7 linked regions of the Homo sapiens genome follow. The protein of the gene in region 4 interacts with the protein of the main gene of each other region in a pairwise test. Each region holds a gene or a part of one and is shown on either strand. Other genes may lie near its edges.

Region 1 (3,500 bases), on a different chromosome or scaffold from region 4:
AAGATAGAAGAAGGTCAGAGACATATATTTTTGAATTAGAAGTGCCAGTGTGAACTCAAAAGGTATTTTATATTTAAATACATGTAGGTATATGTAAGTGCATGTGCATATGTACATGTACACACACGTGCACATCAACACTAGGCTTCCTACGTCTGTTTGCTGAAAAGATCTAGAAATAATAACCAACCTAGTGGAATTGATCTTCCCTGGTTTCCAGATTGTCATCTTGATACAACATTTTCCACAAAAGAAGCCAGGGTTTTTGGAGAAAGACTGATTGTATGTCCAATGCAAGGATTTTAAAAGATGAGCCTGGTGGTGCATCCTGGAAACCTAACCAGATAGTAAGAAAACTGACACTACTTTATGTCGGAAGTATTGAGGAACCAATATGAAGAGGCTTCCAGTGGCCAAAGATGTGACAGTTAGAGCATCAGTGTGGATAATAACAGGAATGGATTGAAATGCATCGAATATGCTTGTCTCTCTGAGTCCATAATACTAAAAAATTAATTGGTCACCTTTGAAGGATAAATAGAAGCCCATATCATTGTTTTGAAAAATTGTAAATAGAAGATATGAGCATTTATCCTGCCTTTTCCATGTACTGTATCATGGGGGATCAAATAATAGACGGGGAGGTTTTTCCTTATAGAAGTATCCCAGCTAATGAATTAAGAAGGGTTGATTGAATTTTAATATCACCACTTCGTAACCTCAAATGAATGAACAGATCAAGACATTGAGTAGCAGTGCTGCTGACATCACAAAAGAAACACCCAGGCATTATTGCCTCCTGATGGGAGAATGCACTACCTTCTATGAAATTATCTTGCTAAATTAATGGAATCTGTATCTCATGTAGCCTCTACATCCAATTTACAGGAGATCAGAAGACAGAAGAACATGTTAAACTACATCATGTGGGTACAGTCAGCAAATTTCAGACGATGGGAAACTGCAGGTCAAACAACCCAGGTTCTTCAACAAATAAAATGCAAGGGAAAAAAAAAAGATGGAGGAGGATCCTGTAGATTAAGAGATTTAGAAGGCATCAAAACAGACTCGCCTGTTTAGGGATGTATATTTCATGGTAATACTAAAGAGAAAAGCAAGAAAGTGATGACCATAGAGGTGTGGTTTGTGATTATTGTTGCGGGGGGCCCCGGAGGGCTTCTTGGCCGTTTGCAAAGTTTTCTTTCTTGGCAAGAGTGTTAGATCCAGGAATGTGCCTTGTAATGATTCATTAAGCTACTTGTTTGTTTCACACAATTTTCTAGATTGATATATTTTACAACTCAAAGGTTAAAAAGTAGATGAAACATAGATCATTCTGCAGATTTTCATTGACCTCTCTCAAGATTGGCAAGTTGTTTGTTTCTTCATGATGTCAGCCAGATAAGTTTCATCACTGTCTCTCTCCTGCTTCTTATAATCCCCATATGTATTTGGGATATGTGGTGAAGAATTTTATCCACTCAACAAGTGTTATGGAACATCTACTATGTGCCAGATGCTATTCTAGGCACTAGGGATACAGCAGTGAACAACACAAAAAAAATCCCTGCCTTCATGGGGCTTATACTGTAGTGGGCGAGATGGGCACTAAGAAATTGGTTACATTAGAAAATGAAACATGCTATAGAGAAATATAATCGGGGAAGAAGGCAGGGGAGTGGTGAGGGGGTACCATTTAAAATAATGTAGGGGGCCTTACTCAAGGGGACATTTGAGTTGAAACCTAGGAGAAGGTGAGAACAGACTGCAGTCTCTGGAGAGAATGTTCCAGGCAGAAGAACAGGGCACTAAGGTGAGCACCCGCCAGACAGTAAAGGAACAGCTGGAATGCTTGGGTGGCTGGACTGAGGGGGAGTGGCAGGAATTGGGGTCAGAGAGGTAATGGGGCGAGAGTTCAAGAGACCTTTTAAGTCCTCCTTAGGACTTGGGCTTTTTCTTGGAGCGAGGTGGGAAACCGCTGGAGACTTGGAGGCGAGGATTGGGTGGCGTGACCGTACGTGTTACTGCAGTGCTCTGGCTGCCGTATTGAGGATGGACTGTGGAGGGGCCAGGTCTGAAGCGGGAAGCTGAGGTAGGAGGATGTTGCTGCAACACAGGAATGCTGATGGTGGTGTGTGGGAGTAATTGGGAAGTGTGCACATTTTGGATGTAATTTGAAGATAGTACCGATAGCATTGGCTGACAGGTCTTAAGTATGGCTTATGAGAGAAAGCAAGGCATCCAGGATGACTCGCAGGTTTTATGCCTCACTAGAATGATGGAGATGCCTTGATCAGAGATGAGGGTGACTCTGGGAGGGGAAGAAAGATGAAAGTGCTCAGCTATCTGAGTGGGATGTGGAGTAGATGGATAGTAGTTGATACAAAGGTCTAGAGTTCAAGAGAGAACTCTGGTCTGGAAAATAGGAGTTTTCATAATATGTGAAACCGTGAGGAACTCACCATGGCAGTGAGTGCCCAGGCCCAAGTGGCCCAAGCAGGGGGACCAGCAAAAGGTTCTAGATGCCTCCCCATCTTCTGAACCTCCCCCAGCTCAATTCCTTTTTCAGGCTGCTCTTCCATTTCCTTTTATGAAAGATACAGGCAAGTAAGTCTGAAGCCAGGCAGATAACTGTTCCTCAGATTTCAGTACAACTAATTTAGTATTATATTACAATTCAAAGACTGCTATTTCCATTATAATTATTATAAGAGAATGAACCAATTATATTTTTCTTGTTAAGCAAACTACATGGTATGTTAGTGTAATGTGAAAAATAGATAACTGAAAGTTTTCAAATCTTAATTCTTACTGACTTTTTGTTTCCAGAAAAGCTTTGACCTGGAAATACTACGCAAAAAAAATTCTTTACTACCTGCGGCAACAGAAGATCTTAAATAATCTTAAGGCCTTTCTTCAGCAGCCAGATGACTATGAGTCGTATCTTGAAGGTGGGTCTTTTCCCATATATGTGGACAGTAGTATTTCTGTAGGTAACTGATTAGTTTTTTAAGACCAGCAGAGGGAATTGTGTTCCTTGTGGTAAAGAAGTGAAAAAGCAAATCATGTTGCGTGGGCTTCTGCAGGTTGGATTATAGGGCCTGATCAATGAGGTAGTTCAAACTATTAAATTTAGAGCTAAGATTTTATCAAAGTCCACTAAAGAAATAGTGTTTTTTAAAGATGCATCATTGGCTTAAAATGTGAGAGTGATACTTTAGCTAATGAAGTAAATTCCTGTTTTTCCGAGCTTTAATGATCATTTCCAAATCAGAAGTAAATGTATCCAATTTTGTCTCCCTGTGACCTTGAGTAAATCCCTTAACCTCTCAGGTTGGAGTTTATTGAGGACAGAATGTTCTTGGGCATCAGTGAGTCTGCTTGTCCGTAATGAAAGGTGAGAAGGAAGAAGTTGAGTGGACAGGCAAGATGAAGGGAGTGGAGAATCTTTTTGTTCTTATTAAGTTGAACAGGAACAAAGTGAGACTTCCATTTTTTTT
Region 2 (3,500 bases), on a different chromosome or scaffold from region 4:
TGGGTGTGGGAAATGGACCGGTACAAGTCCAGTCCCAGTTCCATAACTTACTCGCCATAAGACAAAACATTTATCCAAATAGTTCTGGTCCCCAGTCTCCTTCAGTATAAAAGAAAGCACTCATGACCTGCTCTGCCCAACCGCAGGGCTGATGTGATCAGTTCTTAATATCATATTTACAATGTGCTTGCCACAAACATAGGGAATTAATATTTCACTATGCTTAAAAGATGAAAATACAAAATTGCTTTTATATTTAAATACTGTATATTAATAGTAACATTTTACAATTGAAACTCTAAAATACAAATATTCTGGACTATGTTACAGGTGAAAAATCAGAACAGGGAACCTTAGTACTGTAATATCCACAAGTCCAAGATTAGTTCAAAGTGATGACTCAATTGTCTTTCGAATGTGCTGACTGATAGCAAAGAGGCAACATAATTTACAGACTTTACCAAAGATAAAAGTATCTACATTGATTTTTTGAAAACACAGTTCAAATGGAGTATCAGCAGCTCACTAGACTTAAACTTTCAAGAAAAACAAGAGGTGACAAAGCTGGAGTCTGAGAATAAACAATCTCCAATGTTTGCTACAAATCAATTCCTCCTAAGGAAGAGGGAAAGTTATCAGCCTCCTGAGCCTAGAATTTAACTCCCAACCGACAGCACCAGCAGATCCAAGCAACACCTCCAAGGCTAAGCAGCAGAAATTAAATGAAACACCTATCTATGAATCAGAAGATTTAATTTAAAACTAGAGACTAAGGAAGGTTATTAGCACCCATTGATCATTTTCTATATACCTGGCACCTGTGTCAGAATAACCCCAGGAGACAAGGTACTACCCCCACCTTCCAGCGTCCTGATGAGCCAACTGGGGAGCAAAGGTAATGAAATTTCACTCAAGGTCACATGGCTAATAGGAAAATCTCAGACATGAACCCAATTTTGCCTGTTAAGTCTGTGCACTCTCTATGACATTACTGCACCAAATGTCCTGGATACCCATTACATTTTTCCAATTCTATAATAAAGTATGTCCCCAGGGTTTCATAATGGATGTCATGGTGGGCAAAATCTAGCTAAATGGTGAAATACCTCTATTTATTATTTGAAATTCAATAAAAACAGGAGGAAGGAGAGAAGAAAAGCAGTCCCTAGCACTGAAGGATGGAGGGCTAATCATTCAAGATCAAAACAACTCACACCATATAAGGAGAAAATAGTTTTCATTTGATTATATATCTACAAGGTTATACATTTTTAAATGTTCAGCCTAATAAGCTGTAACCAGAACTTTCCAACAAAATAGTCTTATCTGCAATATAAAATGGTTTAGGTTTTCTCATAGAAACAGAAATGTAGGATTTTTCTTACCTCCCTTTTCATTAACTGACCCTACTCTTTTAAATTCAAATTAAGAGTAAGTAAATCCCTTTGCAGAGGTGCCATCAAAAACACTATAAAGCAACATCAGAAGGCTGGGCATGGTGGCTTACGCCTGTAATCCCAGCACTTTGGAAGGACAAGGTGGACAGATCGCCTGAGGCCAGGAGATTGCCACCAGCCTGGCCAACATGGGGAAATTCTGTCTCTACCAAAAATACAAAAATTATCCAGGCGCGGTGGCGCATACCTGTAGTGCCAGGTACTCAGAAGGCTATGGCATGAGAATCACTTAAACCTGGGAGGCGGAGGTTGCAGTGAGCCGAGATCACACCACTGTCCTCCAGCCTGTGACACAGCAAGACTCTGTCTCAAAAAAAATCTGAAAGCAAAACAATTTTTTAACCCTTAAACAGAAAATACTTCTTCACAGCATTAAATCAAGTTCAATAACCAGCAAGTCTAGAGAACTATTGAAAAGTTTTACATAAATGCAAAACTACTCTGAAACACAAATCTTATTAGATGTAATGAGAAAAAAGAATCCTAGACTGCAAAGTTATCTGAATTCCTAAGTTGTACATACATTTTTCTCTAAACAGAAAACAGCCCAAGTCCCTAGTCAAAAGAAATTGTCAACTTGCGATTGTCTGCACGAATAGGGAATGTCATAAATCATGAGTGGAATCAATTACGTACATGTATTTGCACATGGGTATGCCAGATGTTCTCAAACTGACTCTTCATAATAAAACAGTAACTCAGAAGCATCAGGAAACTTGGCACCTTCCAGCTCTGATGCTCTGCTCCCAAAGCCATGGCCGTTCAGTCGGACACAAGACTGAGGGTAAACTACCTTCCCTCTGCTTGCTGAGTATGAAACAATGGATGAGGGGGTGAGGGCAAGAGGAGAGGGCAAGGAGCAAGGCACAGAAAAGCAATAAGGAAATTAATACCTGTGGTTTAAAAGACCTTCCAGTAGCTGTGACTATCTGACAAAAGAATTTCAAATTCCCATGCCATCAGAGCTCTAGATGATTTATTCCAGACCACATCTGGGAGAAATAATTATAAAAGTAAAAATGTACCCAGCATCCGAACATTTAGACCCTATCCTTAAGGAGCTTACAAGATGTAGCAAAAATATACTGGAAAAGGTAACTAAAGATTCTCATTGAGAGAAATTAAGAGACGCCAAAGAGTACAGTGCTAAGTATTTTCCTTCTTAATCCTTTTGGTGAGAAGGAAAAGGGTAAGCATGATTAATGACAAGGATGCTTTATATAACCAAGAATGTCAATACAACCTACGTGACCAAACTTTGGTCAAGTCAGCAGGTGGAATTTTTAATGCAAAGCCCAACGTTAACAACCTGGGAGAATATTTCGAACAACACAAACACTTACTAACATCTCCAAAACTGCACTTTTCACAATGATTGGGGTTTCTCTGACTCCTCCAAGAAAAGAGGTCAAATTCTTTTTTTTCTCTTCTACCTCAGTGTTTGGCCCATAGAAAGTGCTCAAAAATGGCTGAGGCTGAGGAAAACCAAACACAGGCCGGGCACAGTGGCTCACGTCTGTAGTCCCAGCACTTTGGGAGGCCAAGGCCGGTGGATCACCTGAGGTCAGGAGTTCGAGACCAGCCTGATCAACATGGTGAAACCCTGTCTCTACTAAAAATAAAAAATGAAGACGGGCGTGGTGGTGCATGCCTGTAATCCCAGCTACTCAGAAAGCTGAGGCAGGAGAATCGCTTGAACCCAGGAGGCGGACACTGCAGTGAGCCAAGATCACGCCACTGCACTCCAGCCTGGGCAACAAGAGCAAAACTCTGTCTCAAAAAAAAAGATAAAAGAAAAAAAAATCAAACATAATATTCTAACAGCAAGGATTTTTACTCATGCTTTTTATTTATCATTTTACATGAAATATAAGCCTAACTATACACTACGTATAAATGACTTGGTTCTGTATGTGGGGCCTAGATTGGGGATCTAATACAACACGTGAATTTTTCTTGGTAGCTAGGTCTTGGCATGGCTCAGCCCTTTTAAATCCATTTCTCATTCTCCAATATCCTTCTACCCTATCCTGACCCACCAGC
Region 3 (3,500 bases), on a different chromosome or scaffold from region 4:
GCTCAGAAGGCTTCAATTATAACCTTCCATTGTAGACGTTTTTATTTCCTATAGGACATCACAGGACACGTTAAATTTTTCTAAGAAGCAGAGTTCGTGTTTGTTAAGAAGAAAGTTAGGTTGATGAGGATCATCATCCAACAATGTGACTCAGTTTTCCTTAGAAACTGAAAGAAGCTGGGAGATACATATTGAAAAACTAAGAAGTTATCCTAATTTATTTGGATTTAAAATGTAGTGTATAGTATTTCCTACTTGTTCACCATGCCAGTTTACTTTTTCAGATTAGTATAAAAATCTGTTTTCATTAACAAAACCCAACTAGCTGTATGACCTGAGTGAGTCCTCAGCTTCACAGGTAATTCGTTTCCTCATCTGTAAAATGAAGGGTCTAGAACTGATTAACTGCAAAGCAGTATATTATACTGAAAGGTCATTTTGATCTAGATTTATACAGAGACTTTGTATATCATTATAGGTTAAAGCATCATTATCTTCACATCACTGATAAAAAAAACTCATGTTTTGCCAATTAAATGGTATAACTCAGGCAAAGCAATGATAACATAAGTGGCATAGTCAATACTTAATTTGTGTTCCCTTTACCATCTTCTTTGTTAAGCATCTTCCTGCTCCAAAATTCTCTGACCTCATGAAGATGAAGTAAGGTGAACTACACACTTGTTTTAAAGAGATAAATCTGCCTGAGATATTTAAGGTACAAACATAAGCCTATAATTATGGTGGATCACTGGTGATATCACTACTTAGAATTCTATCATATTTATAAAGTTTTTACAAAATCTGGCCTTTGTAATGATTATAAAATGCAAAGCATTCTTAGGAAATGATTAACAAGCAGGCGCATATAAAAGTGAAGAGATGAATTAGATTTTTAATGTTAAAAACTGCACGTCTTACTAGATCCTTCTCTAGTACCACAAAGAAGAAATTCCTCATAGCTATATATGAACTATGCAGAAAGACTATCAGTATACTGAAATGTACTAAGGGTTTTCTAGCTGATCAATTCACCTTAAGCCCAAATGATTTAAATTCCAAAGAGCAAATTCTAGGTAAACACTTGCCAAAATCCTGTACTCTTAACAGTGATTAAATTACTGCTTAAGGGAAACAGCATAGCACCAAGAAGTTGAGGCACACTGTTGACAGCTTATAAAAAGGTGAAGGTTACCTGATCAAAGCAATATCATCAATCAGTCCACCTTTCCCATTATACACACTGGTGGCTTTTATGCCGAGTTTACTGCTGGCCACAGAAAGCAAATCAGATAAAGTTCCATATACAGCAACCACCTGTAAACACACCAGAATAATATGAACAATTTCTTTAATACATGTTATCCCCCATAAGTTATAAACTACCACACTAGAACAGTGCTAAAAAGATTATCATATAAAAGGAGACTTCAAAAGGTTCTTAACAGTGCCCCCTTTTCTTCCATGACTCATTTATTCACTTGGTGCCTAATATTGCCGACTCCTCAACTAGAACATAAGAAATCATCTCTGACCAAAACAATCTACAATCCTAAGGTGTGTTAAATAGCGCTCCAGTTGTGAAGTAAGATAGACCTACACTTCGATCTAGAGTCTGACATTTTCTAGCTGTCAACTTGAGTCAACCTACTGATGCTTCTGTTGCTTTAACTAGAAATGAAGAAAATAGTAGCACCTACTTCAGAAGGTATTATGAAATGAGTTCATGCATAAGAGCTTAGCAAAGTGCCTGAGACCTAGTAAGTCCCTATTATGTTGTCCTTTTATTATTTATTTATTTGAATGGTTCATCCTTAGAACAGGAGTGTGCTGGTACTGTTTATTATATCATTAACGACATCAACTACCACAGAAAAGATAACTTCTCACCTCATTTATTTAATTCTTCACTAACTAAGCCAGATTTTAGCATCTAACATTTAAGAACAGAGCAAACAGCTGGGTGACAATGAATTGATGTGTCCTGCTGTGAATCAAGCAGTCTGATATATGTGCAAGATACATGCAACTGTCTAAGCAGGGTGCTGAGAATTTCTACATGTAAGTGAATTTTGTGCCCTGGTCCTAACTGTAACTATGGGTTCCCAGCGACTGAGTTGTGCAGTTGCACCATTATCAGTTATGACCTCTGAAAGTTAGGAATAAAAACTAGGTAAGGGTCGGGCGCAGTGGTTCATGCCTGTAATCCCAGCACTTTGTGAGGCTGAGACGGGCAGAGCACTTAAGGCCTGGAGTTTGAGACCAGCCAGACCAACATGGAGAAACCCCATCCCTACTAAAATACAAAAATCAGCCAGGTGTGGTGGTGTATGCCTGTAGCTACTCCAGAGGCTGAAGCATGAGAATTGCTTGAACCCAGGAGGCAGAGGTTGCAGTGAGCCAAGGTTGCACCACTGCACTCCAGCCTTTATGACCAAGCAAGGCTCTGTCTCCCCGCTAAAAAAAGAAAAATAAGTAGGTGAAGAGCTAAACACGAAGCACAGTCAGCTAGCTCATGGACGTCCCAAGATTTATTATGTCAAGATGCCATATGAAGTGAGCACTAAGGCTGGTCCTCTGTCCACCAGTGACTGGAATAGAGTGGACAGTTTCTAGTTAAATAAATACAGTAAATGGAGGACATGGAAAAAGCTGCTCGATAACATACGAGTGTGCAGTTTTTCAAAAGCAGAGTACTCAGATTCTAACTTTTTTCTCTTGGATCAGAAGGATGAAAGCCAGAAGAGTGCTGGGGCATTTTGGAAAGTGTTGAAGGCAAGAAAAATTTAAGCGGAACCAAGTGCATTATAAAAAATAATGTACAACCCAAGTGTCCATAAGCAGGTAATTGCATAAATAAAATATGGTATATATATACAATGGAATATTATTCAGCAATAAGAAACAATGAGGCCAGGTACAATGGCTCATGCCTGTAATCCCAGCACTTTGAGAGGCTGTGGCAGGTGGATCGCTTGAGCCCAGGAGTTCGAGACCTGCCTGGCCAACATGGTGAAACATGGTCTCTACAAAAAAATACAAAAAGTAGCCAAGCATGGAGGCACATGCCTGTAGTCTTAGCTGCTTGGGAGGCCGAGATGGGAGGATCACTTGAGCCTGCCAATTCAAGGCTGCAGTGAGCCAAGATCACGCCACTGCACTCCAGCCTGGACATGATGGGACGGAAAAGAAAAAAGGAAAGGAAAAAGAAAAGAGAAAAGGAAAGGAAAGGAAAGAATAAAGAAAAAGGAAAGGAAAGCAAAGCGAGAAGAGAAGAGACATGAATTCTGACACATGCTGCAACATGGATGAACCTTTTTGACAGTATGCTAAATGAAATAAGCCAGTCACAAAAGGATAAATATTCTATGATACCACTCACATGAAAGTACCCAACACAGGCAAATTCATAGAGAAAGAAAGCAGAATAAAGGTTACCAAGGCATAGATGGGAATGGAGACTTATTTCTTAATGGTTACAATTTCTGTTTGGGATGATG
Region 4 (3,500 bases):
CTTCAAAATATGATATATATTCAATACAAACAGGCTTAAAAAAAAAAAAAACTTCTCGGCTGGGTGTGGTGGCCCACACCTATAATCCCAGCACTCTGGGAGGCCAAAGGAGACAGATCGCTTGAGCCCAGGAGTTCCGGACTAGCCTCGGCAACATGGTGAAACTCCATCTCTACAAAAAATACAAAAATTTGCCAAGTGTGGTGGCATGTGCTTGTACTCCCAGCTACTCGGGAGGCTGAGGTGAGAAGATCACCTGAACCCGGGAGGTAGAAGGTGCAGTGACCCATGACTGCACCACTGCACTCCAGCCCAGGCAACACAGTGAGGCCCTATCTCAAACAAACAAACCAAACAAACAAAAAAACCCCAAAAACCAAGCACTTCTCATTCTCAGAAGTGGCCCTACATCACCCAACCCTTTAACTCTGACCTTATCTACTCACTTCTTGCTCTAGCTTCCACTAAACTCCTTGCCTTTCCTAAAAAGGCAGGGCATGCTCTTGTCTTAAGGTCACTGTACTTGCTCCCAAATCCCAGAATTCTTTTCCCCCAAATATTCACGTCTTTGTTTAAAAGATTATCTTCGGCCAGGGATGGTGACTCAAGCCTGTAATCCCAGCACTTTGAGAGACTGAGGCAGGCGGATCACCTGAGGTCCGGAGTTCGAGACCAGCCTGGCCAACATGGTGAAACCCCATCTCTACTCAAAATACAAAAAATTAGCCGGGCGTGGTGGCGCGCGCCTGTAATCCCAGCTACTGAGGCTGAAGCAGGAGAACTGCTTAAAGCCCGGAGGCAGAGGCTGCAGTGAGCCAAAGTTGTGCCACTGTACTCCAGCCTGGGCAACAAGAGCAAAACTCCATCTCAAGAAAAAAAAAAAAAAAAAAAAAAAAAAAAAGATTATCTTCTCAGTAAGACATCTCCTGACCATCTTTATTTTAAAAACAGCTAACTGTTCACCTACTCACCCCTTTAAATTCCCCATTCCCTTCTTTATTCTCCATAGTTTTTCCATTTGATGTATTTCTAATGTTGCATATTCCCCACCCCTTCAGACCATAAACTCCATAAGGGCAGAGATTTTGTCTCTTTGGTTCACTGCTATACCCCCAGCTTTTGGATGGCATTTGAATGTACCAGGCATTCGACTACAAGCAAAGATCCTTTTAGAAACATTTTTCATTAGTATAAAATAGAATACGTTAATTGCAAGACATATTCAGAAGTCATAAAGAATGAGATCTAACTAGATAAAATAAAGCCTCTAAATCGTAACATGAATTAACGTAAGACAAGCAAACTGGTAGAAACTTTTAAAGAGTTCTTATAAAAAGCCTATTAGATAATACCACTGAATTGTCACTTAAAAATGGTTAAGGTGGTAAATTTTGTTATGTGTATTTTACCACAATTTTTTAAGCTCATTAGACAACAACATGGATGAACCTTGAAAACATTATGCTAAGTGAAATAAGCCAGATACAAAAGGACTAATATTGTATGATTCCATATATTATGTATCCAGGATAGCTAAATTCAGATACAGAAAGTAGAATAGTGTTTACCTAGCGTAATTTTTTTTTTTGAGGGGGGAGGGTGTACCAATTTTTTTTTTGAGGGGGGAGGGTGTACCGAAATTGGAAGTTACAGTTTAATGGGTACAGAGTTTCAGTGTGGGATGATAAAGTTCTGAAAATGCTTAGTGGTGATAGCTGCACAACACTGTGAATGTAATTAATGTCACTGAATGGTGCACGTTCAAAAAGTGAAAATGATCAATGTTATGTATATTTTATCACTATTTTTCTAAGACCATTAGGAAAACAGAGAAATGAAAACAGACAATGCAGAAAATGTAAATGGCCAGTAACACATGTAAAAACATTCACACTTTGGGAGGCCAAAGCAGGCAGATCGCCTGAGGTGAGGAGTTCAAGACCAGCCTGGCCAACATGGTGAAACCCTCATCTCTACAAAAATAAAAAAATTAGCTGGGCATGGTAGCGGGTGTCTGTAATCCCAGCTACTCGAGAGGATGAGGCGGGAGAATCACTTGAACCCAAGAGGCAGAGGTTGCAGTGAGCTGAGATCGTGCCACTGCACTCCAGCCTGGGCGACAGAGTGTCTGTCTCAAAAAAAAAAAAAAAAAAATGCCAGGCTCGGTGGCTCATGCCTGTAATCCCAGCACTTTGGGAGGCCAAGGTGGGCAGATCACAAGGTCAGGAATTCAAGACCAGCCTGACCAACATGGTGAAACCCCATCTCTACTAAAAAATACAAAAATTAGCCAGGCGTGGTGGCGAGTGCCTGTAATCCCAGCTACTTGGGAGGCTGAGGCAGGAGAATTGCTTGAACCTGGAAAGTGGAGGCTGCAGTGAGCCGAGATTGTGCCACTGCTCTCCAGCCTGGGCAACAGAGTGAGATCAAAAAAACAAACAAACACAAAAAAATTCAGGTTAGCCAGGCATGGTGGCTCCACCTGTAATCCCAGCACTTTGGGAGGCCAAGGCAGGGAGATCGTCTGAGGTCAGGAGTTGGAGACCAGCCTGGCCAACATGGTGAAAACCTGTCTAATATAAAAATTAGCCAGTGTGGTGGTGGGCATCTGTAATCCTAGCTATTCGGGAGGCTGAGGCAGGGAAAATTACTTGAACCCGGAAGGCAGAGGCTGCAGTGAGCTGAGATCACACCACTGCACTCCAGCCTGGGCAACAGGGCGAGGCTCCATCTCAAAAAAAAAAAAGATGCTATATATTAACTAACATAGACATATCACCTTTCATTTTGTTATATGGAAAAAAAAAAACATAGAAATGTATAGTTTGCTACCTTAAGAATGGGGGAGAATGCTGGGCGCGGTGGCTCACACCTGTGATCCCAGCACTTTGCGAGGCTGAGGTGGGCAGATCATGAGGTCAAGAGATCAAAACCATCCTGGCCAACATGGTGAAACCCTGTCTCTACTAAAAATACAAAAATTAGCTGGGCATGGTGGCGTGTGCCTGTAGTCCCAGCTACTCAGGAGGCTGAGGCAGGAGAATCACCTGAACCCAGGAGGCAGAGGTTGCAGTGAGCCGAGATCATACCACTACCCTCCAACCTGGCGACAGAGCAAGACTCTGGTCTCAAAAAAAAAAAAAAAAAAAAAAAAAAGAATGTGGGAAAAAAATATACTTACTTGTTAATACCTGTATTACAAAATACTGAAAGGATAAATTGCTACCTGAAAGGGGACTGGAATAGATAAGGACAGAAATGGGAACAAAGTGTTACATATTCCTTTGACTTTAGCCGTTTCAAAATTATAAATCTAAGAAAGACAGTCACGATTCAATTCCACCATGCTCTAGAAGTGGTATCTTTACAGAAGACTATTTAACAGTATCTATCAAAATTTAGGTATATAAGCCAACCTGCGATCCAGATATTCTACATGTAGATCATCCTTCCTAGGGAAGTGTTTGCATAGGTAGACACAGTACAGATGCCCAATAAAT
Region 5 (4,275 bases), on a different chromosome or scaffold from region 4:
AGTGGGCCGAGATCATGCCATTGCATTCCAGCCTGGGTGACAGAGGGAGACTCTGTCTCAATAAAAATATAAATAAATAAAGGCCAGGTGACTCATGCCTGTAATCCCAGCACTTTGGGAGGCTGAGGCGGGCAGACCACGAGGTCTGGAGATCGAGACCATCCTGACCAACATGGTGAAACCCTGTCTCTACCAAAAATAAAAAAATTAGCTGGGCATGGTGGTCCTAGCTACTCAGGAGGCTGAGGCAGGAGAATTGCTTAAACCTGGGAGGCAGAGGTTGCAGTGAGCCGAGATTGCATCACTACACTCCAGCCTAGCAACAGAGTGAGACTCCATCTCAAAAAAAAAAAAAAAAAATTAGACAGGTGTGGTGGCATGCACCTGTAGTCCCAGCTACTCAGGAGGCTGAGGCAGGAGAACCGCTTGAACCCGGGAAGCAGAGGTTGCAGTGAGCTGAGATCATGCCACACTCCAGCCTGGGTGACAGAACGAGACTCCGTCTCAAAAAAAAAAAAAAAAAAAGCCTGAGCTTAATGCATGTCCACATTAATGCATAATGCATCTCCTTCATCCTCATCCTAATCACCCACTGGACAGAAGTAGAAACTGAGGCACAGAGAAGTCACACATCTCACTCAAAGTCACACCAAGGTTAGAAAAGTCAGATTCAAATCTATGCGGTCCTGTACCAAAACCTGGGGCCTTAACCAAGATGCCCTACTCAGGCCTCATACCTCCTATCCCCACCTGACTCCTCACCTCATGGGTACTATTTCGCTTAGTGCCTAAGGTCTTGATCAGAACCTGGTTGGACTCCGTCCCCAGCTGCCGCAGGTCCCACAAGTTGACGTTGCGATCTCGGGAGCCCGACAGACAGAGTGACCCACCCTGGAAAGGGAGCAAGGTGATGTTGTCAGGGCCACCCTGGCCCACCCTGCCTGGCCCCCCACAGACCCCGTCTCACCTGGAGCAGCAGCACTGAGTCAACGGAAGCCACGTGGCCTTCGGCCAGGCAGAAGTATTCGACCCAGCGCCCATCCTCTGCCCAGCGGGACAGGTGCTGCTCCAGCGCAATGCAGGCTGCCGGCCAGTCAAAGTTCTTCTCTGTGGGTTACCACGAGTAGGGTGCCCAGTGGGCAGGGACCCTAGCACCCATGCCAGCTGGCCAAGCCCAACCCTGGCTTCCAGGGAGCCCACACTACACCAGACTTGGACAGAACCCCATGGAGATCCCTACTCCCACCCCAAGCCGACCCAGGCTGTGGTCTTGGGACCACCTGCCTGCCCATTTCCCAGGCAGGTCTAGGACTACTCACTCCAATTTCCAGAAATTGGGAACTGGGGTCTCAGAACTACCTCTCCAGGCGCCATCCCCCAACCCAAACTCAGGGCAGAGCAGTCTCAGGATGTTGAGGTCTGACCTCAGGCTCAGCATAGAAGCTGGGACCTCATGACTAACCCTTCCTGCCTCAGCCATCTGAACCAGACCAAGGGGGCTGTTTCTCAAACAGTATCTGGAAACCAGGGAGCCTTGTCAAGATGCAGAATGCAAGCCCCAGATGCAGATTCTGTGATATGGACGGGGTCCAAGCATCTATGTTTATTAAGCTGTTTGGGAGAGTCTGACCTGGGGGTTGGATGGCAACACCTTGAGAATCACTGATCCCGGAGTGATCCTGATTCCTCTCTAAGCAGAATCAAAGCTTCCAGGTTAAGGGTATCAAACACCCAAGCTGTAATACATCTTGGCTTAAGGGCCTGAGGATCCAGCTGTATCAGGATCAACAATATCGATTCAAAGGTCCCAAGCTGTCTTCCCTCAGGAACCAATCAACTCAGGGCCAAGAGCCACTGTCTCACCCCTAACTGGGTCAAGGCTCTAGGGCTCAGGAGTTTTGACATCAACAGGTGCTGTCTCAGCTTCTAAGCTGGACTCAGAACCTGAGGATCCTTGGGCTCACTTTGAGCCCCAGCATAAACTCCAGAGCCTAAGACTTCAAGTCCCTGTGTCAATCCCCAATCAGGGGTCAGTGGCTTAGTACCACAAGACCCCAAGACTGAGGATATTTGGATCCTGAGTCGTCCAGGAACCACAGCCCCATGTTAGGGTTTCACAGCCTCAGGACCCCAAGTGCCTGACTGCCTCGTGGTCCACCCAGAGGTCCTCAGGGGCTTCGGCACCACCAGTAACTACCTTAGCCTCCAGCCTGAGCCAGGACAGCCACGAAGCCTGCACCAGAGGCTGCATCCGGAACACCCCATGTACCTCTTCCCCGCCCCAAGCCTGACCTGGGCGGGCGCCCCCGGCCCCCGGTCCCCGGCCCCCGGCCCCGCGCACCTTCCACCACTGGGTAGGGCGCGCGTACGCGGCGTAGCGCGCGTAGCCTCCAGGTGACATGGTCAGACACGAGGTCGCGGAGCGCGTGGCACACCCGCGACAGGACGTGGAGCACGAGGCGGGCGTCCAGGTAGGAGCAGATCTCGAGCAGCAGCTCCGGGGGAAGGCTCAGAAGGCCCGGCTCACTTACGGCCGAAACCCTGGACGCGGCCCGAGGCTCCGAAGCGCTCGGGGACGCGGCGGGTGTGGATAGCTGCGAGGGGCGCGAGAACGCCAGCCCGGATTTTGGCGGACTGAGAACGCGGGCCACGTAGGCCTTGGCCTGCGCGTCTGGGTCTGTCTCTGACTCTGGGTCCGAGTCATCGTCCCAGGTGCGGGAATCATCGCACCGCCCTAGGGGAAGCTCCATTGCGACCGGGTGGGCGCTGCCGGCCTCGCGTCTTGTCTCCTAGGCAGCACGAGGGCACTTCCGGCGCTGTCTGATGACGTTTATGCGCCCACCGGAAGCGACGAAGTCAGACACTGGCTTAATACAGAACATCGCCCCGCTTACAGGGTCTCTTGCAACTGCGTCGGCCTTAGGCTGGAAAATGCAGGTTCCTGTTTCTGCGCTTTTTAAACTAGCCGATACCGAGAGCCAGCCAACTCTAGCTAAAAACGAAACTCAAGCCAGGCGGGGTGGCGCGCGCCTGTAGTTCCAGATACTCAGGAAGGTGAAGGGGTAGGATCCCTTGAGTCCAGGAGTTCGAGACTGCAGTGAGCCATGGTTGTGCCACTGTACTCCAACCTGCGCAACATAGTGAGACCCTGTCTCTTTAAATTAGACATAAAATAAACACTGCTTTAACGAAGGCATCTGTTATATGTGACACTGAGCTTAGAAACCCAAAGGCCCCTTTCCGAGTTCAAGGAGTAGAGATTGGAACTCTTGCCTCTTTTCCCAGAGCCAGAAATATGCAGTTACACTGCAGAGGCATCAGTTAAGTGACTTTTTTTTTTTTTTTTTTTTTTTTTGAGAAAGGAACTGGGGCCTCAGAACTACCTCTCCAGACCCCATTCCCCAACCCAACCTTGGAGGACAGCAGTTCAGTCCTCCAAGCGGAGTGCTTGGCTCATTGCAACCTCCGCTTTCTGGACTCAAGTGATCCTCCACCTCGGCCCCCCAGGTAGCTGGGACTACAGGCGCGCACCACCACACCCGGCTAATTTTTGTATTCTTTTGTAAAGACAGGGTTTCACTACGTTGTCCAGGCTGGTCTGGAACTCCTGAGCTCAAGCCATCCGCCCCCAACTTGGTCTCCCAAAGTACCAGGATTACAGGCGTGAACCATCGCGCCTGGTGGAAAGCTACCTTTTTCTTTTTTCTGAGACGGAGTCTCACTCTGTCACCCAGGCTGGTGTGCAGTGGCGCGATCTCGGCTGGCTGCAACCTCCGCCTCCCGGGTTCAAGCGATTCTCCTGCCTCAGCCTCTAGAGTAGCTGGGAATACAGGCACGCGCCACCACTCCTGGCTAATTTTTGTATTTTTCAGTAGAGACGGGGTCGCACTATGTTGGCCAGGCTGGTCTCAAACTCCTGACCTCGTGATCCGCCCGCCTCAGCCTCCCGAAGTGATGGGATGACAGGCGTGAGCCACTGCGCCCGGCCTAACATCACACTTACTAAAACAGCATGTTGGCCGGGTGCGGTGGCTCAGGCCTGTAATCCCACCACTTCGAGAGGCAAGGTGGGTTAATCACTTGAGGTCAGGAGTTCAAGACCAGCCTGGCCAACAAGGTGAAACCCCTTCCTACTAAAAATACAAAGAATTGGCCGGGTGTGGTGGCAGGCACCTGTAATCTCAGCTGCTCAGAGGCTGAGGCAGGAGAATCACTTGAGCCTGGGAGGCGGAGGTTGCAGTGAGCCGAGATGGCATCATTGCACTCCAGCTTGGG
Region 6 (4,143 bases), on a different chromosome or scaffold from region 4:
GCACGCGTTAGCATTGAGTCCGGGTTCAGCTTAGTAGACTAGAGCTGTTCCTGCATCCCCTGGGCCACCAGCCTGGAAAAGGGTAGGGTTCGGAGGCAGCTAGAGGCAAGCCCTGAGCAGGTACAGTCACGGACACCCACCCAGGTCGCTTGGCCAGAAAGCTTGGGGGACCCTCTGCTGCAGCCTCACCAGCCCCTCCCAGCAAAGAAAAGATCTTGAGCCAAGTTAGACTTGGTTTATCGCCGTGTCAGTCACTCACGGAGCCTTCATTTCCTCTGCGTGGGGGGAATAATGTCTACCACTGGGGTTGTGAGGAGCCTGCAACGGGGCCTTCCACAGGCAGTCCTAACCCGCTTTCCCTGGAAACAAACGGGACCAGCCTGCTTCCAGTCCAGAAGGACCGACTAATGGGCCGGGGCCTTGGCTCCCCGCAGCCAGAGGGAGCTAGAGTCTGGGCTGGGGAAGCGTTTCCCTTTCCCTGCCAGCCTCCCCCGCAGCTCCGTGACTGCCCCTGGCTGTGCCAGCTCGGCTCCTTTGTGCCAGGGGAGGGAAGTAAGGAACTTAAATATGTTGGGTGCAGCCAGGTGTCACACCGAGCCCGGGCCTCCTTCAGGTTTGTGTGCCCTCATTAGTCACCCCGTCAACCTCTGCACCCCCAGTTTTGTACATGAAGAAACTGGCTCCGGCAGCTCAGGTGACTGGCTGGTGACTTATTTGCTGTCAGACCCAGGACAGATGTCTGAACCTTGCTGGGCGTCACTTCCTCATTTGTCAAGTGGGAGGAATTGTTACCTTCAAGGTGGTTATAAGGATTAGGTGTTTAAGCCTCAAAGGTGTTGGGTGATCTTTTCTTCTAAGAATCTTTGGAATAATTCTGATACAGGGAAAAAACAAAGAGCGGACTGTCCCCCTGCCCAGCCATCCTCAGCCATTCCTCCCGACCTGAGCTGAGTGCCAGAAGAACCAGATTCAGTAGACGTTCATCAGTACCTACTATGTGCCAGGTGCCACTGTGTCATTTAATCCTCTTACCCTGTTGGATAAGAAAAATTTAGCACATTTTATAGAAGAAGAAATGAGGTTGCAAGAGTTTGAAGTATTTGAGCTGGGGTCACATGGTTGGACGAGCTGAGCGGCTCAGCAGAGTGCTGACAGCAAAGCCCTTTGCTCTTTATGTGACAGCAGGGCCCCTTGCTTGATCAGTACAGTGGCCTGGGAGGTCCACTTCACACCTTGCAGGTTTGGGGCATTAAGCTCGGTTCTCTTACAGTAAGAATGGAACAACTTCAGGACATGTTGTGCCATTCGCCTCCCCCCAACCCCCACCCATGTCACTCTAGTCTAATTCCTGGGCCTTGTTAAGCCCATCAAAATAGCCTTGTCCAGTCGGGGCCCAACCCCAAGTCCATCTTCTGTTTTCTTCCTACCAGCTCAAAAGAAAGGTGGGGTCACTACGCTGTTTCCTTCCACTCCTGTCGTGCTGCCAGCAAATAGCAGCTATGAACTTGGGTGGCAGTAAACTGGCTGAGTCTAGTTTTCCATGAACAGCCAGGGCCAGTTTGTTATATGATCAAGGGGGTGTTTTTCCTCAAAGGCAGCACGGGACTGGCAGAAGCTCAGTGAGAGGCTGGTTGAATAGCTCTGTGTTCTTGCCTGGGCCGCTCTGCCCATGAGGCTGGGACCATGGAGGGAGCCTGGCCTGGTGGTTCAGTGTCTATGTCTGTGTCTGGGGTGGGGGTTAGCAGATAAACACAAGATGTATTTGGGACATACTTACACTAAAATATTATTCACTGTTTATCTGAAATTCATATTTAACTGGGCAGCCTATATATTTGCTAAAATCTGGCAACCCTAGACTGGGCAAATCATACCACCTCGTGGAGCATCAGTTTGCTAATTTGAAAAATTAGGCTAAGCCACCCTCCTTAGGAATACTGTGTAAATCAGTAATTCATCTACTCCTGGAGTCTGGTTTGGCTCAGCTGACCTGAGCACCCTGGCTTCTCCACCTCTGGCTCCCCACCCTCTCTTTCCTCCGTAGTTTCCCAGGCCTTGAGGGCTGCTTGCTAGGCCTAATGGAGGGGTGAGCTGATTGCTGCATCTGGAAGCCTTTTCCCAGAGCCTGACCTTGAAAATCCAGGCCCAGCTGGACCCACCCAGCACTTAATGACTACCAGTACGGAGGCCCCACTTCTTGGTGTTTGCATGAAGCAGCCCAGGACCTGTGAGGCTAAGAGGAGGATTAGCAATTGTTTCCCTCATGATTTTATTGTCTCCTGGGGACCCTGCTTTGGGCGGTCTGGATGTCTGCCTTGGGCCTAGTTTGAGGCGCCCCGAAGGTGGAGCCATCTTGGTCTCGTAATTTGCTCTTCCCTGCCCCCCAAGAGGGAAGCCAGAGCTAGCGGGGCCAGCACTGCTCAGGAGGCAAGGTGGCCTACCTGTCGCACACCCGGAGGAGGAAATCATTGACCAGGCTCTCGTGCCGGCTGCAGATGCTTCTCTGGAAGGCACTCTTGAGCCAGTCCTCAATGCTGCACACCTGCACGCGGCTGGAGTGCCAGCAGATGGAGAGGCTGCGGAGTGCCGGGCCCAGGAGGAAGTTGTCCTTCTGGAGTTCAGTGAGGGAACGGAAGTGCAGCAGGGACCAGAGTGCGGGGTCCTCAAACACGTCGTGGAGCTGGGAGCAGGTCCTGGCAAGGCTCTTCCTGCTGTCCTTGTCTAGGAAGGAGAAGAGGTGCAGCAGGCACTCCCGGTTGAGCTGGGTTATGTGCATGGTGAGCAGTGGCCACATGTGAGTGCAGCTGCAGCCGGGGGACGGCTGACCTGCCTCCTCTCCTCCTCCCCGACTCTGGGCCGGTGGACATATATGGTTGAGGAATGGTGTTTATTTTTGGCTAACAACTGGTGCTGAAGCTCTGCGGAGGGGTGAGGGAAGAAAAGCCAGGACCCAGACACATGTGCGGCAGTCTGTGGTTCGGCTTATGTTCAGAGGGATTGGAGGTCCTGGCAGAAAAGGAGCCTATTGAAGTTACTTTCCTTAAAAGGGATTTTTTTTTTCCCTTTAGCTGACAATGGTGTTTAGCAGTGAGCACTTTTGGCTTTTCCCAAGGCGTTTTCATTGGCAGTGGTGGCGGCCAGGCCAGCTCTGTCTGGCTTTGCAGTCTGTACTTAGGGGGAAGGAGTGTAATTGTAAATGTTAACTGTTTTGATTTTCTAGTACATCAGTGTGAATCTTTTGCTCCACCCTTACTAGGAAGAAACCTGTTGCGTGTGGAGAGCTAAGGGTGACGGTTGTGAGTTGTGAGCAGAGTCCATGGCTGCTGCCTCATTCCTGTTATTTTTGTGCCATAGAGTAATTGTCTCCAGGCTAGGCTGGTTGGCCTTCAAGCCCTGCTGCCTGCCACTAGGCAGGGGGATTTTCCTGGGCCTCCCCAACAGCTAGATTTTTACCCTGAGTTGTTTCATAAAAGAATTTTACTGAAGTAGCTGCTTTCCAAAGTTGTGTGTCTGTGTTTTATGTTTTATTGGTGCTTTGTTGTTGTTGTTGTTGTTTTTGTAGTTTTGGTCAAGCAGTACTTTCTGTGTTTTAAATTTAAATTTACTTGGCTTTACATTTTCTCACTGATAAGGCCTTGTACTATGTATAACCTGTACTTCCCAAAATGTCAGGATGGATGAGGTAGCTCTTAATGTGAAACTGCTTGAAACAATTTTAAGTTCAGTATTTTAGTCCATCTTTGCCTTTAAGTTGACCACACACCATCCATTCTATGAGTGCCCTCCGTTCCCTCTTGGAGAAGCCAGTGGGCCACCCCTGCCCTCTCTGACTCAACTCTAGGCAAGGTGCCTGGAGGTACTATCCGTGAAGCTCCCCCTTCCTGAGTACCCGAGGCTTCACGATATGGCAGACCCGTTTCCTCATGCTGCTTCACTCCCAAACCCAGGACCCAACCTTAACTCTCCTGCTTTGAATCCCAGTCGTTGTTTTTTGGTTTGCTTGGGGGATGCTGATATGGTGCAGCTGTATAGGCCACGTTCTGCCTAGGCAATAGTGAGAAGAGAATGGTTTTTCCTCTGCCAGCCCAGGGACCACCACCTCAGTGGTTACTTCTGTTTGTTCTCCCATTTGGAATAAGAGGG
Region 7 (3,500 bases), on a different chromosome or scaffold from region 4:
CTCGTGATCCACCCACCTCAGCCTCCCAAAGTGCTGGGATTACAGGTGTGAGCCACCGCGCCCAGCCTATTCTTTTCTTAAAATGATTGTTGAGCAGCTTACAAAATTTTTTCTTTGACATAGAACCCTGTCTACCTCTACGTCATCATTTCATGTTCACTTACTCTCTGTACTCCAGTCACTCTGGATTCTTTTCAGCTCGCTTTGATCTCTTCAAGTGCTGCAAATGCTTTTCCTTTTCCCTATAATGCTGTCTCCCTACCTTACTTCTCCTGGTTAACTTCCACTTATTCTTAAGATCCATTTAAAGCCGGGCACGGTGGCTCACGCCTGTAATCCCAGCACTTTGGGAGGCCAAGGCGGGTGGATCACGAGGTCAGGAGATCGACACCATCCTGGCTAACACGGTGAAACCCCATCTCTACTAAAAATACAAAAAATTAGCTGGGCATGGTGGCGGGCGCCTGTAGTCCCAGCTACTCGGGAGGCTGAGGCAGGAGAATGGCATGAACCCGGGAGGCGGAGCTTGCAGTGAACCGAGATCGTGCCACTGCACTCCAGCTTGGGCGACAGAGCGAGACTCCATCTCAAACAAACAAAAAAAAAGATCCATTTAAATCAATTTAGGGACGCCTGCTCTCCCTTACAGTGTCAAATATGCCCATGATATGTAGCACCATGTACTTGTCCTTCACAGCACTGAATCACTATTGTGTCTCTAGTATATAGCACAGTTCCTGGTACTTCGTAGGCCCTCAGGGAATTGTTGGTTAAATGAATAAACGAATTAATGATTATTCCTCAAGCTAAATTTTAGAATCATTGGGCTTTTCCGTGAAATTAAGGTGATTTACTTGAGAAAATGTGACATACCATCAAGAAATGGTGTTTTTCAGGCCAGACATGGTGGCTCATACTTGTAATCTCAGCACTTTGAGAGTCCAACAAATACAAAATATTTAAAATTATCCACATATGGTGGCACATGCCTGTGGTCCCAGCTACTCAGGAGGCTGAGCTGGAAGGATCACTTAAGCCCAGGAGGTTGAGGCTGCAGTGAGCCGTGATCATACCACTGCGCTCCAACCTGAACAACAGAGTGAGACACTGTGTCCAAAAAAAAAAAAAAAGAAATGGTATTTTTCATTTATTTAAATCTTGTATCACTGTTGTAGATGATACATTTTTTAATTGAAATTATCCCTAAGTTTTATGTTATAAATGAAATATCTAGTTCGTTATTATTGGACTTAGGAGTTTTCTCTTCATCCAGTTTTCTCCTATTTTATTTACAATTTTACTATCAGAAAACTATATGTTTTGTAGCTAAAATTATCTAAAACCAAAAGATTTTAACATAGTTTTCTAGTTTTCTTAGGTAGAGTCTGTCTCCCAGGCTGGAGTGCAGTGGCATGATCTTGGCTCACTGCAACCTCCGCCTCCCAGTTCAGCTGGGATTCCAGGCATGTACCACCACGCCCAGCCAATTTTTGTATTTTCATTAGAGACAAGGTCTTGCCATGTTGGCCAGGCTGGTCTCGAACTCCCGACCTCAAGCGATTCCCCCCGCCTTGGTCTCCCAAAGTGCCAGGACCACAGGTGTGAGCCACCGCACCTGGCCTTACATAGTTTTCTACTTCTGTTGTTCATAAGCTGTATGGTTTGATCATAAAACTGGAGAAGGTTCTCTTTAGATTTCAGTTAAGGAATATTTCTTAACTGAGTAGATATCTTCAGGGCAGTGACTTACCCTGGAGCATTTAACATGTTGACTAAATTAACTGGTTTGAGACATGTTTATATTGTAATTATCATCTCTATAAAATTTAGAGCTTACATAGTTTGTCATATATCATTGTGTCATTTATCCTTAAACCCTATAAGGTAGGTATTGTTATTACTGATGAAGAATTGAGTCTCACGCACATTAAGAGACTTTTCCATGGTCATTATAAATTTAGTTCCTGAACCAATCTTTATACCCTGGTCCTTGTTCTTTAAAGCTTATGCCACTTCTCCTGTATCATGTTGCTTTGTATGTATAAAGAAATCTGAACCCCATCTCTACTAAAAATACAAAAAAATTAGCCGGGCATGGTGGCGGGCGCCTGTAGTCCCAGCTAGTCGGGAGGCTGAGGCAGGAGAATGGTGTGAACCCGGGAGGCGGAGCCTGCAGTGAACCGGGATCGCGCTACTGCCCTCCAGCCTGGGTGACAGAGCAAGACTCCGTCTCAAAAAAAAAAAAAAAAAAAAAAATCTGAATATATGTATAAAGCAATCTGAAAGTACTTAACTGGATTCTAATTGAGTTATAAAATAGAAACCTTCCTAGAATATCCCCTTTGCATATTCTTATTTTTTATATTTATATTTTTTAAGTATAAATTATTTAGCAAATCATTTTAAATGATTGTTCTTGTAGGAACCTTCAGAAGTTTAGTCTTTTTGGAGACATAAGTGTTCTACAACAGCAAGGAAGTTTGTCAAATACATACCTCAGCAAGGTGGACCCTGATGGCAAAAAAATTAAACAGTAAGTTATATGGTTAATGGAAAGGAGGTTGTACTATTAATAATATGTTTTTCCTAAGAAATTATGAGATACAAACAGAAGAGTAATGATTTTTTTCCTAAAAGGAACATAGGTCCTGGAAATGTTTTAATGGTGAAATACAGTGATCAGCATCTGCCATTCCATCTCATAAATCTTTAAGAAAAATCAAGTAACTTAGTGGATAATTATTGCTATTTAAAATTATTCCTCTACTTGCCTTTGCTATAACATAAATTGTATGTTATCCTACTTTTCTACTAAACGGGTATAAGTGGTGCTTTTCTTGGATGAGGAACATATTTCTACGTGTTTAATAGATCTTTATGTTTAATATACCTTATTCATTATATTTTAATGTGAATTTTAATGGTATTTACTGTGGGTTGAATCGAAATTACCTAATGAGGAAAAATAGATCTCAAAATTGCATGCTTTTCATTGCCTATTTTCAAAAGTCAGTGTTAAAAGATTAGAACTAAATGTTAATGGGATCACTGTGGCATGTGTTTTCCTTATAGAATTCAGCAACTGTTTGAAGAAATCCTGAGTAATAGTAGGCAACTGAAATGGCTGTCCTGTGGGTTTATGCTGGAAATAGTAACCCCAACATCACTGTCATCTCTCTCTAATGCTGTTGCCAACACCATGGAGCACCTCAGTTTACTGGACAATAATATTCCTGGTAACAGCACTCTTATTACTGCAGTTGAACTGGAGCGATTTGTGAATCTGCACTCACTTGCCTTGGATTTTTGTGACTTTACAGCTGAGATGGCAAGAGTCTTAACTGATAGCAACCATGTGCCTTTGCAACGACTGTCTCTTCTGGTTCACAATGTTTCTGTAATGCACAAGTCTCTGGACAACATGCCAAATGATGAGCATTGGAAAGCCCTGTCACGAAAGAGCACCAGCTTTCGGGTCTATATAATGGCTTTTGATATCA

The links.
Region 1: the proteins of SKP1 (region 4) and FBXO21 interact in binary tests that used the Homo sapiens proteins (3 or more experiments, as listed by UniProt).
Region 2: the proteins of SKP1 (region 4) and MTUS1 interact in binary tests that used the Homo sapiens proteins (3 or more experiments, as listed by UniProt).
Region 3: the proteins of SKP1 (region 4) and KCTD9 interact in binary tests that used the Homo sapiens proteins (3 or more experiments, as listed by UniProt).
Region 5: the proteins of SKP1 (region 4) and FBXW9 interact in binary tests that used the Homo sapiens proteins (3 or more experiments, as listed by UniProt).
Region 6: the proteins of SKP1 (region 4) and FBXL22 interact in binary tests that used the Homo sapiens proteins (3 or more experiments, as listed by UniProt).
Region 7: the proteins of SKP1 (region 4) and FBXO33 interact in binary tests that used the Homo sapiens proteins (3 or more experiments, as listed by UniProt).

The regions. Positions count from the first base shown.
Region 1 is NC_000012.12:117,176,971-117,180,470, reverse strand, and holds part of FBXO21 (F-box only protein 21), read left to right. Parts: intron 1-2,829; coding exon 2,830-2,951; intron 2,952-3,500. UniProt on the Homo sapiens protein: Substrate-recognition component of the SCF (SKP1-CUL1-F-box protein)-type E3 ubiquitin ligase complex.
Region 2 is NC_000008.11:17,791,095-17,794,594, forward strand, and holds part of MTUS1 (microtubule-associated tumor suppressor 1), read right to left. Parts: intron 1-3,500. UniProt on the Homo sapiens protein: Cooperates with AGTR2 to inhibit ERK2 activation and cell proliferation. May be required for AGTR2 cell surface expression. Together with PTPN6, induces UBE2V2 expression upon angiotensin-II stimulation.
Region 3 is NC_000008.11:25,444,934-25,448,433, forward strand, and holds part of KCTD9 (BTB/POZ domain-containing protein KCTD9), read right to left. Parts: intron 1,318-3,500; coding exon 1,196-1,317; intron 1-1,195. UniProt on the Homo sapiens protein: Substrate-specific adapter of a BCR (BTB-CUL3-RBX1) E3 ubiquitin-protein ligase complex, which mediates the ubiquitination of target proteins, leading to their degradation by the proteasome.
Region 4 is NC_000005.10:134,163,451-134,166,950, forward strand, and holds part of SKP1 (S-phase kinase-associated protein 1), read right to left. Parts: intron 1-3,500. UniProt on the Homo sapiens protein: Essential component of the SCF (SKP1-CUL1-F-box protein) ubiquitin ligase complex, which mediates the ubiquitination of proteins involved in cell cycle progression, signal transduction and transcription.
Region 5 is NC_000019.10:12,693,832-12,698,106, forward strand, and holds the start of FBXW9 (F-box/WD repeat-containing protein 9), read right to left. Parts: upstream 2,801-4,275; 5' UTR 2,751-2,800; coding exon 2,342-2,750; intron 1,108-2,341; coding exon 968-1,107; intron 892-967; coding exon 763-891; intron 1-762. UniProt on the Homo sapiens protein: Substrate-recognition component of the SCF (SKP1-CUL1-F-box protein)-type E3 ubiquitin ligase complex.
Region 6 is NC_000015.10:63,596,044-63,600,186, reverse strand, and holds the start of FBXL22 (F-box and leucine-rich protein 22), read right to left. Parts: upstream 2,801-4,143; 5' UTR 2,795-2,800; coding exon 2,442-2,794; intron 1,034-2,441; coding exon of another isoform or gene 994-1,033; exon of another isoform or gene 1-993. UniProt on the Homo sapiens protein: Substrate-recognition component of the SCF (SKP1-CUL1-F-box protein)-type E3 ubiquitin ligase complex. Promotes ubiquitination of sarcomeric proteins alpha-actinin-2 (ACTN2) and filamin-C (FLNC).
Region 7 is NC_000014.9:39,401,434-39,404,933, reverse strand, and holds part of FBXO33 (F-box only protein 33), read left to right. Parts: intron 1-2,422; coding exon 2,423-2,533; intron 2,534-3,072; coding exon 3,073-3,500. UniProt on the Homo sapiens protein: Substrate recognition component of a SCF (SKP1-CUL1-F-box protein) E3 ubiquitin-protein ligase complex which mediates the ubiquitination and subsequent proteasomal degradation of target proteins. Probably recognizes and binds to phosphorylated target proteins.